2 separate regions of the Homo sapiens genome follow, and region 1 is linked to region 2. Evidence: fine-mapped expression QTL. Tissue or cell type: whole blood. Region 2 holds a variant in brackets; the other region holds the start of a gene. All regions are shown on one strand. Distances are between the middles of the regions.

Evidence for each region. PIP is the estimated chance that this variant, and not a neighbour inherited with it, causes the effect.
Region 1: it holds the start of LRRFIP1, and the variant in region 2 is fine-mapped to the expression of LRRFIP1 in whole blood (TOPMed, PIP above 0.99).

What each region holds. Positions count from the first base shown.
Region 1 is chr2:237,624,205-237,632,307 of GRCh38, forward strand. It overlaps LRRFIP1 (LRR binding FLII interacting protein 1), which reads left to right and starts at 3,383. Exons shown (of 24, transcript NM_001137550.2): 1 at 3,383-3,536. The coding sequence starts at 3,441. RefSeq lists enhancers at 6,790-7,289, 7,292-7,853.
Region 2 is chr2:237,691,440-237,699,542 of GRCh38, forward strand. The region is part of intron 1 of LRRFIP1 (LRR binding FLII interacting protein 1); the gene reads left to right. It overlaps LOC124906128 (a long non-coding RNA gene), which reads right to left and starts at 357. Exons shown (of 2, transcript XR_007088145.1): 1 at 1-357. RefSeq lists enhancers at 1-516, 3,143-3,322, 5,645-5,854 and silencers at 1-529, 540-1,079, 6,918-6,967. The variant A/G (reference allele first, on the strand shown) is at 3,746.

The DNA.
Region 1 (8,103 bases), 67 kb before region 2:
GCTCTCTGCCTGAGAAGCTCTGAGTCCTCATGCAGACTGGACGCCCCTCCGTAGCTGCTCATCAACTTCCTTTCCCAGCCAGCCCCCAGGGCTTGCCCACTGAGCTCCTGAACCAAGGCAAACTTGCGCTGGGGACGGCGCCGCTGTGTGGTTTCCCTTGCCAAGGCTTCCCTGGCTGCCTCCACTTTCTCGTGGAGGCTTCCTGAAGGTGGCATCTGTATTTTTGTGAAGGGACTTGGTACCAGGCTTGGAGATGAACATGTTAATTCTCTGGCCCTGGACATCAGATCTGTGATATAGTTTCTCAATTTCCTGCTCTGAAGTAAGCCCTGGTGGGTAGTGTCACCATCTGGAATAGGAAAAGGGCTAGATGGGAGGGGTCAGTAGTGCTGGTGGCAGAGGCCAGTCTTCTCAGTGGAAACAGGCTCATGCACTTCCACGCAGGGAGGGCCGACGGTCAAGGGTGGAGGAAAAGCCACAATTTTTCGGTGAACCCATGGATCAGCATGATGGAGTCTTGCAGGTCTTTATCTTCCTCCAGGAGGCACCCCAAGCACGGAGAAGACCCACCAAGCTGCCTGATACCTCTGTCTAGCTCCCCTCTGCCCAGACAGGAACTGCTGTTCACCATTCATTCCAGACCTGGGCCTTTGAGGACAGGAGCTGTAAGGATGATTGATCGATTGCCTGTGTGTGAAGCCCTGGAAGGGCTCTTGCCTAGAATACTGTCCCTACCCTGACAAGGTAGAGGCCATGGTCTGGATGGCGGTGGCCCCCCCATTCATATGTCAAAACCTAACCCTCAATGCAAGGTGGGGCCTGCAGGTGACCAGGTCCTGAAGCAGAGACCTCATGAACGCGATGAGTGCCCTTACACAAAAGCCTGGAGGGAGCCCGTCTTCCACCATGAGATGACACACAGAAGGCACCATCTGTGAGGAATGGGCCTCAACCAGACACTGATTCTGCTGGAGGCTTGATGCTGGACTTCCCAGCCTCCACAGCTGTGAACAATACATTTCCGTGGTTTTATAAATGACCCTGTCTAAGGCGTTCTGTTACAGCAGCACAAAGGAACTAAGACAGTGGGCACCCGTATTTCCATTTAGAGGCGGAAACTGACTCTGAAGTGAGAACCGGTCCACTCTGAGAGCACATCGCCAGGGGAAGAGGACTGTAGCCAGGAAGTTGTTATGTCATGGGGTCATGGGAGGACCCAGCAATGTTGTTTCTGATGATTTCTGAAAGGCGGCTCTTTTCTGGAAGTGGACAGATGATGGGGGAGGGGCAGGAAGCTGAATTCACCACAGTGTCCGAGAACACTGTCTACCAGCGGGAGCTGTTCAGACACACCTCTGGCCAGTCCCCACGGCAGTGAATCTCCTGTCTCTGGACAACAATCCAACAGGGAAAGTGGGGAGGAGGGTTGGGAACTGAACTCTGTTCCACAAGTTCAACCACTGCACTCCACTAAGCAACTGGCACAGCCAGTCCCTGGTGAAGGCTTAAAGATGAGGAAGATGGGGTCAGCGCCTGCCCTCCTGGCCTCAACACATCAGGATGGAGGATTTAGGTGTTAGCAAAAAGTGGCTCAAAGTTCCAATGAAGGACAGGGAGCAAAGGGAGACTTCTTTTAGAAAGGAGACGTTGGAACTTGGATATGGCTTTAGTTAAGGAGCTCCAGGCATCTCAAGTCAGCCCTGAGAGGCAGCAGCCGTGTCTGCCTCTCGGACAGCTATGCCCCAGCCTCCAGCTCAGCAGCTGGCAGGCAGCAGGTGTGGGTGCAGGAATGAGTGAACTCATGGGGACCAGCCTCGGCAAAGACGCACAGTCCCCACAGTGCCCCAGGGGCTGGGAAACAGTGAGCAGCCACCAGCAAGACCAAGGCAGTGCAAGTGGCCACGGCTCAAGGTTTCCCCCAAGGAGGACTATGTCACTTAAGGAGTATGGCCTCTGAAGTAATGTAAATATGGCCTGGAAGATTCAGTCAACACCTATTTCCTTAGTGCCTACAATGTGCAGGTGCAGTTTCTGCTCCCGGAGTTCAGTCATGAACAATGCCACAGTCAGCCCTGCCAACCCACCTGCGTCAGCTCAGGCACCCAGAGCAATGTCACCTGGATCTGCCCTCCCTCCCATGTCACTGGACTCGCTGTCTTTTCCCTGCAATGAAACCTCCAACAGCTTTCCCTGCCACTGTGGGTGGAAGGGCCCTCTTCCTCTTCCCACCTTCATACAGCTTCCAGGCCACCTCCTTAAGAATCCAAAGCAATCTGGTCACACCACTTGGTGGGAAATACACCGAAATGTTAACTGTCCTTATCACTGGGGGAAAAAAATCACAGGTGACTTCAGTACAGCCTCCTCTCCTCTACCATCACTACCCTCCCTCCCATCCTTCCCCAGGTCCAGCCACACTGAAGTTCTCCCCATACCCCAAACACACCAGTAACTTTCCCACCCGGTGCTCCTGCCGTGCCCTAGGCAGGGGCTTTTAACCCCTACCTAATCCTCCGATTTGCTTTACTTTTAAATCCACCTCTGGAGCATAGACTGTGAGCTTCAGAGAGCACAGGTAAGTTCATTACTTTTTCAACAACTAGGAGAGAGCTGCGACGCACCTGCCCCGATCCTAGAGGCTGGGGACCCACCAGAGAAGTGACAAGTCCTTGATCTCAGGGGGCAGACAGCGGGGAGAAGGATGGATGCTAGCACGGAGAACACGCGTGTAAAGACAGAAACGCACACATCCACACCATGCCGCTGTGAAGCCGGCGCCCAGGAGGCTGGCCAAGGTCACAGGAGCGGCGGTGGCGGGCGGATCCGAGCACCTCTCGGCCTGACCCCAGAGCCTAGCTCTCACCCCGGCGAGGGACTTCCACCCCGACTCACCGCGGAATGGGGAGCGCCAGGCTGAACCAAATCCTGTGCTCACCCCTCCGTGCAAACCCCTCAAGGCAACTCAGGCCTCTGAAAGCCTTCCTACCCCCCCGCTCTCCGCTCAGGTCCCCACTCAACCGGTGCCCACCGCCCTGGCGCGCGTCGCTCCGCGATTACCGGCCCGCCAAACAGTCCCCGCAAAGTCCACCCTCCGGGGCTCCCGGTCCCTCAGGTCCCGCGTGCCCGGCCCTGGGCATCCGCAGCGTCCCCGTGGTATCGGACCCCCATCGTCCCTGACACCTGGCGTCTCCGCCCCCCGCCCCCGTCCCCCGCCCCGCCGTCCCTGGCCCCTGCAGTCCCTGGCCCGCGCTGCGGACCTCCGGCTCTGGCTTCCCCCGGGTCCCCGCGGCCCCCGTCCCCCCGCGTCCCCGCGTCCCCGGCCCAGCGCCCGCTGACGCCATGACGCCGCGGCGGAGGGAGGGGCCGGGGCCGGGGCCGGGCCGGGGCGGCGCGAGCGGCTGGAGCAACGGGCCCCGCGGCAGCTGCGGGCGACGCGGTCGATGGACATGGGCACCCAGGGATCGGGGCGCAAGCGGCTCCCCAACCGGGAGCGGCTCACGGCGGAGGACGACGCGCTCAACCAGATCGCGCGGGAGGTGAGCGCTCCGGGAGGGCAGCCGGGGGGCGCCGGGCGGGCGCGGGGGCCGGACGGCTGTCAGGGTCTCTCCGGCGTCCGTCTGTCCCGCTGTGCGTCTGTGCCACTGCGCGTCCGGCTCCAGGCGGGTGGGCCGGGCAGGCGCGCGCCGGGGCGCTGATCCCCAGGCGCTGCGCCCCGGCCCCGATCTCCGAGGCCTGCGGACCCCGCACCCGTTCTCCAGCCCCGGGCCCAGCCCGCGACGCTGCGCGCCCTCCCCCACCCCGGCCACCGTCGGCCGCTGCGCCCTCGGGAGAGGAGCCGGGCGCCGCCAGCGCGCGAGGTGGCCCGGGCTGGCCGGGTGGGGGCGAGCGCCCCGCTTTGTTGTGCGGCATGGGAGGAGGCGGGGGCTTAGGCCCGACCTGGAGGCAGTGGACGGTCGCCGGAGGCCACATGGCCCTGCTGAAATGGCCGAGTCGCTCAGGTGACCATTTGTCATCCATCCATCGATGTCACTCAAGGTGCAGCTCAGAGATGAACTTGGGGATCACTGTGATTTTTCTTTCAGGACTGAGCCTGGAAACGGGTCCAGGCACACTGAAACGTCTTCATTAAAGTTTCCTGGACAGAGTTTATTGTAACTAAGATCATGTTTGGTGATGAACTTTACCTGTGACAAATTGAAGGCGCACTAGAATGGGTATTTGTACAAATGCCTTTTTTTTTTTCCTTCCGCAAGGATTCTACCTTAAGGCTAAAGAATGTACATGACATCCAGAAAGCCGTACAGGGACAGAGAGCAGCAGCTTGGGAAAAGGGGAGCCAATAGGTTGCGGCCCCAGGGGGACAAAGGAAGCTTAATTTTTGACTGTGTTCCCTTTGTACCATTTGAACTGTGTGCCAGGTGGGTGTATGAATGCAAAGAAAGTCTCTGCCTTGTAACCCGCCTTACAGGTTCTTTTCCGTGTTGGCTTTTCCACATGTGATTCTTCCCACAGGAAACACCTCCAAGCCATTTGGACTGTGGTGTCTGGCTGTATCCGTCAGATATTCTGGGGGATCTACTCTGTAACCAATCCTTAGGTGTTTGTAGTTGTAAATACCTGATTTTGCTCTTACGGACATGTGGCAGTCACTCAGTATTTGTTGACTACTGAGTGAATAAAGACTTCTGTTTTTCTCTGTATGATACAGAAAAGGGCTTTCCAGGCAAACCCTTATTCATTCCTGGAAGCCCACTGTGACCTCCAGGAGACCTTCCAGACTCAGCCCTCTCACATCGCACCAGGCCTAAGTCTCCCTGGCTCCACGGCCCTCCATGGCATGCCCGCGCCTGGCATGGCAGTCAGGATACCTTATCATTATTTGTCCACCTGTAGAAGGTGACACCCAGACAGGAAATATCTTACTTTTGTATCCCAAGAGCTCAGCACAGAGCCAGGCACATACTAGGTGTTTGTCTATGTCTGTTACATTAATTAATAAACAAAAGAAGTACAAGGCATTTAAAGGACCTTTGGCTAAATATAGACATTTGCTAAATATAGTAGCTTGAGTATAACTCCCTCCTGTGAAGACAGTCACTTATGTATGCATTTGACCACAGTGCCTTACAAGTGTTCCCTGCAAGGGCCAGAGGTGGCCAGTGAATCGCAAGCCTTGTCTTGATGTCAGTGGTTATGGGGCAGAAGAATGAGAAGAATGAAAATTTCCAGAGTTTGCCTTTTATCCACTGGTGTTTCTTTCTTCTTTTTTTTTTTTTTTTTTTTTTTTAACACAGTCTCACTCTGTTGCCCAGGCTGGAGTACAGTGGTATGATCTCGGCTCACTGCAACCTCCACCTCCCAGGCTCAAGAGATCCTCCTGCCTCAGCCTCACCAGTAGCTGGGATTACAGGCACGCACCACCACACCCGGCTAATTTTTGTATTTTTAATAGAGACGGGGTTTCACCGTGTTGGCCAGGCTGGTCTCAAACTCCTGGCCTCAAGTGATCTTCCCGCCTTGGCCTCTCAAAGTGCTGGGATTACAGGCGTAAGCCACTGCGCCCAGCCTATCTGCTGGTTTTTATAAAATAGATTGAAAAGGAAGGCAAGGGAACACTCCTTGGGTTGAGAGCCCTGAGGTCCTCCCTCCCACCGAGGGAGATGCAGTTGGAGTTACAGAGATAGACTTGTGAGTCAGAGCTGGGCTTTCAAATGACATAGTTCTTAGCCAGCTGTGCCATCCTAGGAAGGTGAGTTACTCACTCTTCTCTGGGCCTCTGTTTTCTCGTCTCTAAAATGGAGAAGAAGAAACCTCCCCTGGCTGTCAGAATTAAAGAAAGTGGGTAGCAATGTAAAGTATGTAACTAGGCGGTGGGTAAATATGAGAGCTTCTTACACGCCCCTCCCGGTAAAACCCAGCCGTAGGTGCAGCTGTTACTAGTGCTGAGTAGCACAGATTGATAGGGTTGGAGGGAGCAGGTGTGACATCTTATGTTTTAGTACAAATTAACTTCTATTTCTCAACTGTGAAAATGAAAATCACTATTCAAATGGCAAATATCTACTCCTTGAATTCATCAGGGTTCTTATAGAAATCAACAAAATCGTCTTGGGTTCAGTACTTTCTTATTCACTCATTGACTCAACAGATACAAGCCATGGTATCCAAATTCCTGTCCTGGGGAGACTGGAGAGTCAGGGAGGAACCCGGCGAGGACCTGCCTGCCCTCCAGGAGTTGGGTCAGAAAGGGGTTGACACCTGTAGATCAATAATGCTAACCGAAGACAGGAAGGGATCTGATATAAAAAGGGCGTAGACAGTGTTCTGAAGGTTTGGACATGAGAGAGAATCACAGCCGGCCAGTGGTCTCAGAAGTGGCTTCCTGGAGGAAGTGGCATTTTGAGTTCTTGAAGGCTGTATGTACCAGTCAAGATGCTTTGGCTGCTGGGACAGAAACCCTGACTGGACTGACATTGACAAGGGGAAGTATATTGGCTGGAGCACAGCAAGCCCGGAGGCAGGGCAGGATTCCCCGCCAGCCTCACCAGTGGCTCCGGCCTCTTTTTCCCACAGCACCTGCGCAGCTGGTTGGGCTGGGCCATCCTCTGTGGGTGGCCTCATCCTCAGGCTGACTTGCTTCATGGAGGCCAGCTGGCCTTGGCTTTCCCGGGCTGCCACTGTGGAGCCCACACACCGTCTCTTCTGGTGGCTCTCTCCAGAGAGCTAGCAGTATCTCCCTGGTAAACTTTCATGAGTCTGTCTGGCCACTCCTGCACCAAGCTCTTTGACAAGGACCATGGACTTAGGGGCTCAGTGCCTGTGGCAAAGGGGGGTGGGTCTACCCTGTGACCTGTCAGACTCATCCTGGGACTGGGGAGAGCCGGCCTCCCTGAAACACTTGGGAAGGTGGGGGCCTGAATGGAAACTGGGGAGGCTTCAAGGAAGTGGGAGGGAGTGGGCTGCCACTTGGGCCTGGCACCCAAGAACATGCCTTCTGGAGAGTAAGTGGAAAATTCTGGGCTGAGGTCATTGGGAAGCCTGAGTCACCTGGCAGGGACGTGGGTTCCAGTTCGCTGGAGCGAGGGGAAGAGCTAGGCTGCCCTGTGCAGGCAGGGCTTTGCACTCTTCTGGGTAGAAGCAGGACTCGTGGTGGGGGCAGCCTTTGGAGGGTGCATTTCTGCTTCTGCAGCCGGTGTCCTGCTTCCATGTGATGGTTTAAACTCTAGGCAAGCGTGTATAGTAAAGGGAGTTATTTGCAAATGCTGTATTATCGCAAGTCAATTATTTCTCACTCTCTTGTTGCAGTGGAATTCAGGCGGGATGTTATCAGGAGAAAGGTTTAGTACGCACTTGCAGAAGCTCATTAGCACCAAAGGCATGAGCTGCGCCTCCCACTTCTGGGGAGGGGTGTTTCCAACGCAGATAGATTTTCCTCTCCTACCGCATTTCACATTCTACTGGTGCATTTTGGTAGCATCCCAAACTTCTCATTCAGCACTCTGCAGCTGAGTAAAGCGATACTGGTCTCACCATGCAATTCAAAGTATTGCTCTCAAATGAAGAATGTTTTTCCCAACAGGAACAGTCATTTGCGCAGGCTGCATTAGGAACTCACCGTGGGGCCTTGAGACAGTGCGGTGAGCTTATTATCCCCTGGTGGTGCCATAGGTACCCCTTCCTCACCCAGCAGGACGGAGGCCCTCCCCCCATAACTGTTTCTGCAGCCTCCTCTCCAAGCTGGCCCCTCTGTGGCCTGCGGCCTCGGGCCCTGATCCATGGCAGGGGCACTGCTGCCCCACCCGGCTGCTTCACCGGCCCCAAGTTGACTCGTGGGCCTGCGGGTGCTGTTGGTTCAGGCCTCACAGCCACCGCCTTTCACTTGAGCCACGGCCACACAGGAGTCCAGTTGCGGAGAAGGGGTCGCACTGCCCCCAAGGAGTCCAGTTGTGGAGAAGGGGTCACACTGCCCCCAAGGAGTCCAGTTGTGGAGAAGGGGTCACACAGCCCCCAAGGACTCCAGTTGTGGAGAAGGGGTTGCATTGCCCCCAAGGCAGCCTGCAGCCATCAAGTAACCATTTTGTGAGGTCACAAAATGTCCCCCAG
Region 2 (8,103 bases):
CGCACCCGCACCCTGCAAGCTCGTTCTCCCCTGCGGGCCGCCGCACCGGGCCAAGGGGGGCTGTGTGCACGCAGCTGCGTCGTCCTGGAAGTCGGCCCTTCTCGGGATGCCGCGTTAGTGGGGTGCCCGGCCGGCAGGTGCAGCGGTGCTGGGGCCTAGGCTTCCGCGTCCAGGAAGCTCAGCGTGGCCTGAGGGTGATGGATGTGGGGGAGCCGGGAACTCATACCCTCGCCCAGCCCCGGGCAGGTCCCCCCCCGGAGGGGACCCCCTCTTCGGGTCGACCCCTACTGGGCGCGGCATCCTCCCCGGAGCGCCCGCTTCCCACGGCCCCTGCGGGTGGAGCTGCGGCCGGAGCCTGAGGGGTCTTTTCCTCCAGGTCCTCTTTCCGGCGGGGGCCGGAGGGGTGGTGATGGACAGCCCGGGAGGGGCGGGGCAGGACCAGGAAGATCCTTCCGAGACGGAGCGCGGGGGGCGGGGCGGGGCTCGCGTTAAGGGAGCGCGGAAGGGCGGGACAGGCCGTGGGGCGGGGCCTGGGTGGGGCGGAGCCGGTGGGGGTGGGGAAAGGGGCGTAACCGGGAGGGACCCTCCGAGGCGGAGCGGCGCAGGGGGGCGGGGAAGGCGGGTCATGGGGCGGGGGCGGTGGGGCGAGTCATGGGGCGGGGACGGGGCGGGGCGTAGCCGGGAGGGCCCCTCCGAGGCGGAACTGCGTGGGGGGCGGGGCGGGCCGTGGGACGGGCGGAGGCGCCCGAGTCCCGCTTCCCCGGCGCCCTTCCACCCCGAGCCCGACTCAGCCCGCGGCCACCTGCGCCCCGCCCCTGTCGGCCGCGCCCGAGCCCAGCGCCGCGAGCCGCTCCCCGGCGGGCTGGCTCCTGGCCCCGGAAGCGCGAGCGTTCACTTAGCGGCGAGTGGCTCCGTCTCCGCGGACAGAGCGCGCGCCCCCTGGCCCGGCCCGCGAGGGGCTCCCGGCGCGGTCCCCGAGCATTTCCCGCCGGGTGGAGCGGGCCGAGCCCGGCAGGATGACCAGCCCCGCGGCCGCTCAAAGCCGGGAGATCGACTGTTTGAGCCCGGAAGCGCAGAAGCTGGTAAGAGGAAAGCGCTTCCGAAACTTTCTTTCGTGACTGCGGCGGGGTTTCAGGGGCTTCCAGCTCGTTCCGAGGTCAATGGCAGGCGCAGGTGCCCGGGAGGCGTGGGGTGGGCTCTGGCGGGACCCCAGCGCGGTGGGAGCGGGCGCAGTGGGCGCGGGTCCGTGAGTGGCCCGGCGAGCGGCGTCCCTCATGCGCTAGGAAGCACGCTTTATTGTGGGACGCCACCTCCAAGGACGAAAAGGCACATGGTCTCTCCCCGCCCGAGGTGATGGGCTGCAGACAGGCTCTGACCAGGTCTGCGCCTGGCCTGGAGTCACAGGGAGCTGCTAGTTTGCTATTTTACAAAATACAGCATCAAGGACCGGGTGGCCAGAGCCGGTGCCCTCACCCGCTGTTGGAACCACCGGGGAGCGGCTGGGGTGCTTTGGAGCACTCAACCCGCTCAGCACCTGGGGACCACCTCCGCCGAGGACTCCAGACGCCAAATCCACTTTGGCTAGTCTCCCGGGTCCGCCCAGCGCGGACAGGATCCTGCCTCTAGGATTTTGCCGTTGTCCAGCTCAATATGCAGTCGTGGGGCTACGGCTGTAGTTTGGCATTAAAATTGGGCAGGGGATGAGGCGGAGAGGGTTTGCAAATACACATTTTCATGCAGCTTGTGGTTGAACATGAATGGGAATAAAAGTGAAAGGGTGCACTTTGGAAAAGAAATATAAAACCCTAGCTTTCCACTTAATCAGGTGTTCGTGGGATCTTGGTAAAAGTATGAGCCCCAAACAATCACTCTTTCATCAGGTAGAAATTAATCATCTACTGGGTGTGTGTGTAAGATTTAAGATGAATCAGACTGCCTTGACCTTGGGAGAGCTTATTAGGAAATGCCAGAGAGAGGTGTAGAAGTAGAGTCTGATGAACTCATACTGAAAAGCCAGTTCTTTGCTTGTCAGATGGTTGCTGTTTTTTAAATGTCCATTTTAGTGTGGTTTTTCTGTGACTTCGTTTAAAACTCTGGCAGTGGGCCAGCCCTCTGGAGCCGGTTTTTACCCCTTCAACTAATTAGTTCCTAGGGGCCTGGGAAGAGAGACCCTTGAATCACCATCAGGGAAGGGTTCTTGAAAGAAGGAAGGGTGGGAATGTGGTTGAGCGGTGCCAGTGTTCTGAGGAGCAGCCTGGGACACCATAGATGGCAGGAGGAGGATGGAGGTGAAGAGCTGCCTGCTGGACTTAGAGTCCTTGGAGAAGGGAAGAGTAAACATTGAGAACAGGATGTGAGGAAACTAGGGACAGGCTAATCAGAGGAGTAGGTAGAGGCACACCTGGAGCAGCTAAGGCACTGGCTACAGGGTCTATTACTTAAGGCTGGGAGCCTCCTGGGCGGGTCTGGGTTCAGATGACTTCGAGATGCTGCCGGGAGGAAGGGAGAGGAAAGTCTGGACTGTGTCCAACTGAGTAGTTATGTGATCAGCCCAGGCCCACTGTCCCTCACCCCCAGTTCCAGAACCCAATAAGCTTTGAAGACCGGAAGGTTTGTGTTTTGTTTTGTTTTTATAAGTTTGTGGCAGAATTTTGGCAGTGAGACTTGCCCTGTCCAATGGGGGGCTAGTTTTGGTCTTCACTGATCCCTCTGAGTGTGAATTTTCTTACGTTTCTCTGCAGTCTTGTTGATGTCTTTGATTAAGGGCTGCTACTCTGGGTTGTACCAGAATATATGGTGTATGCATCTTACTACGTTTCTAATGTCCAAAAATGCTGAATTCTGAATCATGGCCCCAAGGGTTTTCAGAGAGAAGTTGTGAACCTGTAGGAGCTTTTCTTGGTAAATGGTAGCAAAAACTGTATCAGAGTGAGACATGGTGAACAAAAGCAAAATGCAGTTCCTGTTAAGAGGCTAATGTTCAGGTAGGGAAGGAAATGTGCTGAGTGGTGATGGGAATTGGGGGTCATCATGGGTGGGGGGTAGGGCGTCACCCAGCGGCTGCCCTGGGCCATGGGCTGGGTATAGGCACAGGAAAGTGGTTGTGGGTGTTTCACACTGGTTTGTGCCAGTTCTTGCTCTGCATTGTGTCCGTGGGTTCAGGGATGGGTCTCCTGCGGAAAGGAGGGACTGGGGGCCGCACCCATGCAGAGGAGAGCCGGGTTGGTCAGAGGAAGTAGATTTGGCAAGCTCCACCTCAACTAGAAGACAAAAGCAGGATCTGAGTGGGAGCCTGGGCTTCTTCAGCAAGTGGGCACCAGCCCTGGAGCTGTAGGAGAGGGTCCGATGCGGACAGTGGAGACACTGTGCATTTCTGCAGCTTTTGTAACTTCCCTGTGTTTGCGATGGCTTGTGTCACCCCGCTCTCTTTCCACATACTGATTAGCATTCAGCCCTTCTAAATGACCAGCACTGTCCCAAGAAAGGGCTGTTAGGGGAGAGCGTGGACACACAGTCTCCCAAGTCCCATCTCATTATAGGTACCTGGGCCAGGGTCCCCAGGTGTGGGAGAGTGGAGTCTTGACCAATATGGGGATGAATCAGTTGGCACGAGGCGGGCTGGCCCTGCTCTAGCTCAGTCTGAGATGGTGGAGCGTGGAATCATATGGTGTGTGTTTTAGGCATGTCATTTCCCCGGGCAGGTAAGACATAAATATAGTAAGGTAGGTCTTTTCTAGTAGTATTG[A/G]GAGTGTCCTACTGGGGCAAAGATGGAGACTAAATTTCCCTTTTTCTTTAAGAGTCAGTTTCTGTTCAGCCTGAGTTAATATCCCACAGCGGAAGCCTCCTTAGCAAATTTCAAAAAACCCTGCAGTCTCAACTGCCACTTATGCTGAGCACAGGAAATCAAGTTATTTATAGTTGCAGAACGGTGTTTCAGCGAAGTTGATTGGAGAGTTACCTGATTATAGTGAGATTCTTATCCAATCCCTACAGAATTGTGAGACTAAATGTTGGTGCAGCATGTTTGGTCCTCAAAAGGCAATGTCCAAGAGGAACTTCTTATCCCCGAAAAATCAGGCTGTGTGACTCAGCAAAGGAATTGTTTATGACTGGTTACTCATATGCCAGTGCTTCCAGAATATCTGCTCGTATTTAAAGGAGTGATCTTGAAGCCCCAGAGGCCATAATGTTTAGATTACCAACCTCTTCACCAATCAGTAAGTCCATTACATCTCACTACGTGTTAGACATGGGACAGGAGAAGAGGATTTTTATTACCTCACTGTTATTACTGGAGGCCGCCCAAATTTGTTTTTTGTTTTTTTTTTTTAAATAAAGAAGCTTGTTTTCATGGAATGGACTTACTAGAACTTTTATTATTCAGACTACCTAGATAAAATTAAGTAAATTCGTTTCTTTCTCCCAAATTAAATATTTTGACTACATGCAAGATTTAATCATTCAAAATTGCCATGTATTTGATTATAGACCAGTAGTATAATCCCCCTGCCCCAGGCCAGATTCCAAAACAATAAACCAAAACACACACACACCTGGCAACAGAAATTATATGTATTCCGAGACTCATTCATTCATTTTGGAAAGGGCCAGTGTTTCCAGTGGTTTCTCCTTGGGATTGTAACTTTACAACTTTAAAACTAGGTAAGTAGTTTTCCCTTGAATCTAAAGTATAACTACTTTGTAGTAGAGAAGTAATTTATCTTAAATCACTATAATGAAGATTTACTCTTAATTTTAACCAAAATGTTTCATTTATTTGTGTAATGAAGATGATCAAAGCAACGCCACCTGTGATCCTTCTGTCTTTTTTACTGTATGTGGCACGTGGCTGTGTGATTTTCCTAGGGAAAGGAGTGGGCTTTCCCTGTGGGTTGAGAACCTCTGTCCCCCTCCTCTGAAGTTTCCCCAGTTTTTCCTGCTTCTCTGCTAGGTGGGTGCCTTAGCATGCTTGTCTTCTCATCGTGCTTCTAAACTTCTCTGAACCGGATTTATACTCTTAGGTCAGTAGCTGTCAAAGAAGACACTAAGTAGTGAAAGTAGCTAATATTTACCAAACCCCTGCTGCGCCCACCTGGTGTTTTATGTGAAGGTCTTCTCTAACCCTTGCTGTAACCTCATGGGGAGCAGATCGTTTTCTCTCAGTTTTTCAGATAAAGAGGAAACTGAGGCTCAGAAAGGTCAGGGACTTTCCAAGCCCTCACAGCTAGTCAGCAGTGGAGCCAGTTCAGACCCAGGCCTGCTGACTCGGAACTGGTACTGATAACTGTCACCACTGTATGCAATGCTGCAGGCAGGGGCTGGCAGGTAGTAAATGTGCAAGATATAGCTGTGGCTGCCACGGCTGCTGCTGCTGCTTTTGTCGCTGTTGTCAGCTTTTCTTGGCAGCCCTGCTGTCTCATACCCCAGTATTGGGGCTGAAGGATTTCTTTTTACCAAAGCTGCCTCTTAGGACAGAAGTCCTTGTCTTGAATGCATACTGGGAAGTCTTCACTCTGTCAAACTTTTCTGTTCTCTGCCTGGTAATTTCCAGACAGAAGAGAACATTCAAAGAACGAACTTACTTTCCTTCTTTTTTTTTATTGAGACAGTCGTGCTTGATTGCCCAGGCTGGAATGCAATGGCACAATCTCAGCTCACTGCAACCTCCGTTTCCCAGGTGCAACCGATTCTCCTGCCTCAGACCTCTGAAGCAGCTGGGACTACAGGTGCCTGCCACCTCACCCGGCTAATTTTTGTATTTTTAGTAGAGATGGGGTTTCACCACATTGGCCGGGGTGGTCTCAAACTCCTGACCTCAAGTGATCCTCCCATCTCGGCCTCCCAAAGTGCTGGGATTACAGGCATGAGCCACCACACCCGGCCCAATGAGCTTTACTTTTCTACATAAGGAAAATAATGGTAGAAATGAAATAGCTGTGAAACTTGTTTTGCTATTTTTGTACCATGCTAAAATGTTAACTACTGCTTATGTCGGCATACACCTGAGAGCTGCTGTGATTTAAGCCTTTTTATTTTTCTGGGTATGATGTAACTCCTCCCCTACCTCATCCAAGTAGATAAGTTCATGGAGGATAAACATGACAGCTGCTGTTTCTTTTATAGCTGGTTCCAGGGAATATCCACTGAATATAGGAAAGATTGTCAGTTGCTGTGTGCTGCCCTGGTGCTGGTGGAGCTTTCAGCCTTCTTCTCAGAGGAAACAATTTAAATGTTTTTGTGAAACCCTAGAGGTCTGGGGTTTGTAGGACAGTCTTGAGCAGAGCAGGCAAAGGTGAAGGGAGTGGAGCCCAGACGTGCTGCCTGGAGGGAAACCTGTCACCTGGAGAGGAAACGGCACAGGGGAGGCCCAGCCGCCCTCGCCTCTCAGTCCCGCACGTCTCTGTTAGTGGTAGTCATGGTTCTTGTATTTCCATCATGTTGAGGCAATTGAAGGAAATATGAAGATTCATTCATCTCAGGAAAAGCAAGAAATGTATTAACAGCAAGAGTAGAAGTTCACTTGCATGGAAGATACTGTATAGCGTATTTATTTCTTAGCGCCAGTGGGAGTAGCTGCTAAGCCCAAGATTGTGTTGTGAGGTTTGAATAGGTCAATGTGTGAGTCATCAATAAAGTAACATCAATCATTTTGTTCCCGATTAATACGTTTGCTATTTTAGGATGCGAAGGACTTTAAAGAAGCTTATTATTCTGAAAAGCAAAGCCTGGAGATTTCCAGTAGCAAAACAGACACAGTCTGTGGACAATCTCAGTGTACAAATAATTCACCTCTGGCATGAACCCAAAGAATTTCAGAGGGGAAGGAAGCTCTTAAAGATTACGTCCCCTCCTACTTCTTTAATGAGGGCTGGGGTTCAAAAACCGAGTAACTTATCCAGGCTCACATAACTGTAGGTGACAGAGCCCAAGCTGGAGGCTGTGGCTGGGTCTTCAGACTCCTTTCTTGACAGTCTGCACCTGCATAAACTCAGACCTTTACTGAGAACAGTGCAGCCATAGCTGAGAGAAGCAGTCGGCACCCAGCATTTCTTGGACTTGTCTGCCAGGTCCCCCGAGTGCAGAGGACAGTGTGCTGGCTCCTGGGGCCTGTGGGCCCGGCCAGGAGCAGCCTTGTAAGCTAAAGCCTTCTTTGAAGGTGGCCGTCTTACCGTAAACTTTCATGGTAATTTCAGTCTACTCCATAATTTGTCTGAGTTAATTTTGATGGAAACATAGTGTTTTAAGTAATCAGTTAGGCTTTGATCTCTAACTTTATGCCATCCAAATCTTCATGATGGCCTGAGCACCAGGCACCCAGACCTGTGCTCTGAATTGTGCCGGGGCTGGTTCATACAGTGTGATGGAGAGACGAGAGATCCACACTGGAGTTCTGAAGCTGTGGTTCTCAACCCTGTCTTTTTACAAGTTCCTTAACTTCCTTACTAGCCTGAAATGAAATGCATAGGTGAGAAAGTCAACCAGCGCACATAATTTCGAGTCAATATAACATTTCCTTAAAAAATAAAATACAGGTAGTTTATAGTAACATAATAAGAATTTTGATATAGAAATACTCAAGACCAAGTACACCAGCAGTTGAATGCAGTGATGAGACCTGCACACACCTGTGCCTGGCGTCACAGGGAGGCTGACACAGGTGTGTTGCACTGAGACCCACACACCACCCCTCATGTTGCTGTCTATGACGTGACATTCTACAAAGTTGACTAACTCTCAGGAAAGTTCTGAACAAAGCCAAGTATCATCATCTTCCTTCAATTTCCATGTCGATTGCATTCCTGGAATAGTTCATGTATATTTGAACTGTGTAAAACATATTTTGAGTTTATATGTAAGTTGCAATCAGTTTGTAAATCCAAAAATTAAAAATAGTGGTTTTTCTTTTCTTTTTTTTTTTTTTCTTTTTTTTTGAGATGGAATTTCGCTCTGTCGCCCAGGCTGGAGTGCAATGGTGAGATCTCGGCTCACTACAACCTCCGCCTCCCGGGTTCAAGTGATTCTCCTGCCTCAGCCTCCTGAGTAGCTGGGATTATAGGCATGCGCCACCATGCCCGGCTAATTTTGTATTTTTAGTAGAGATGG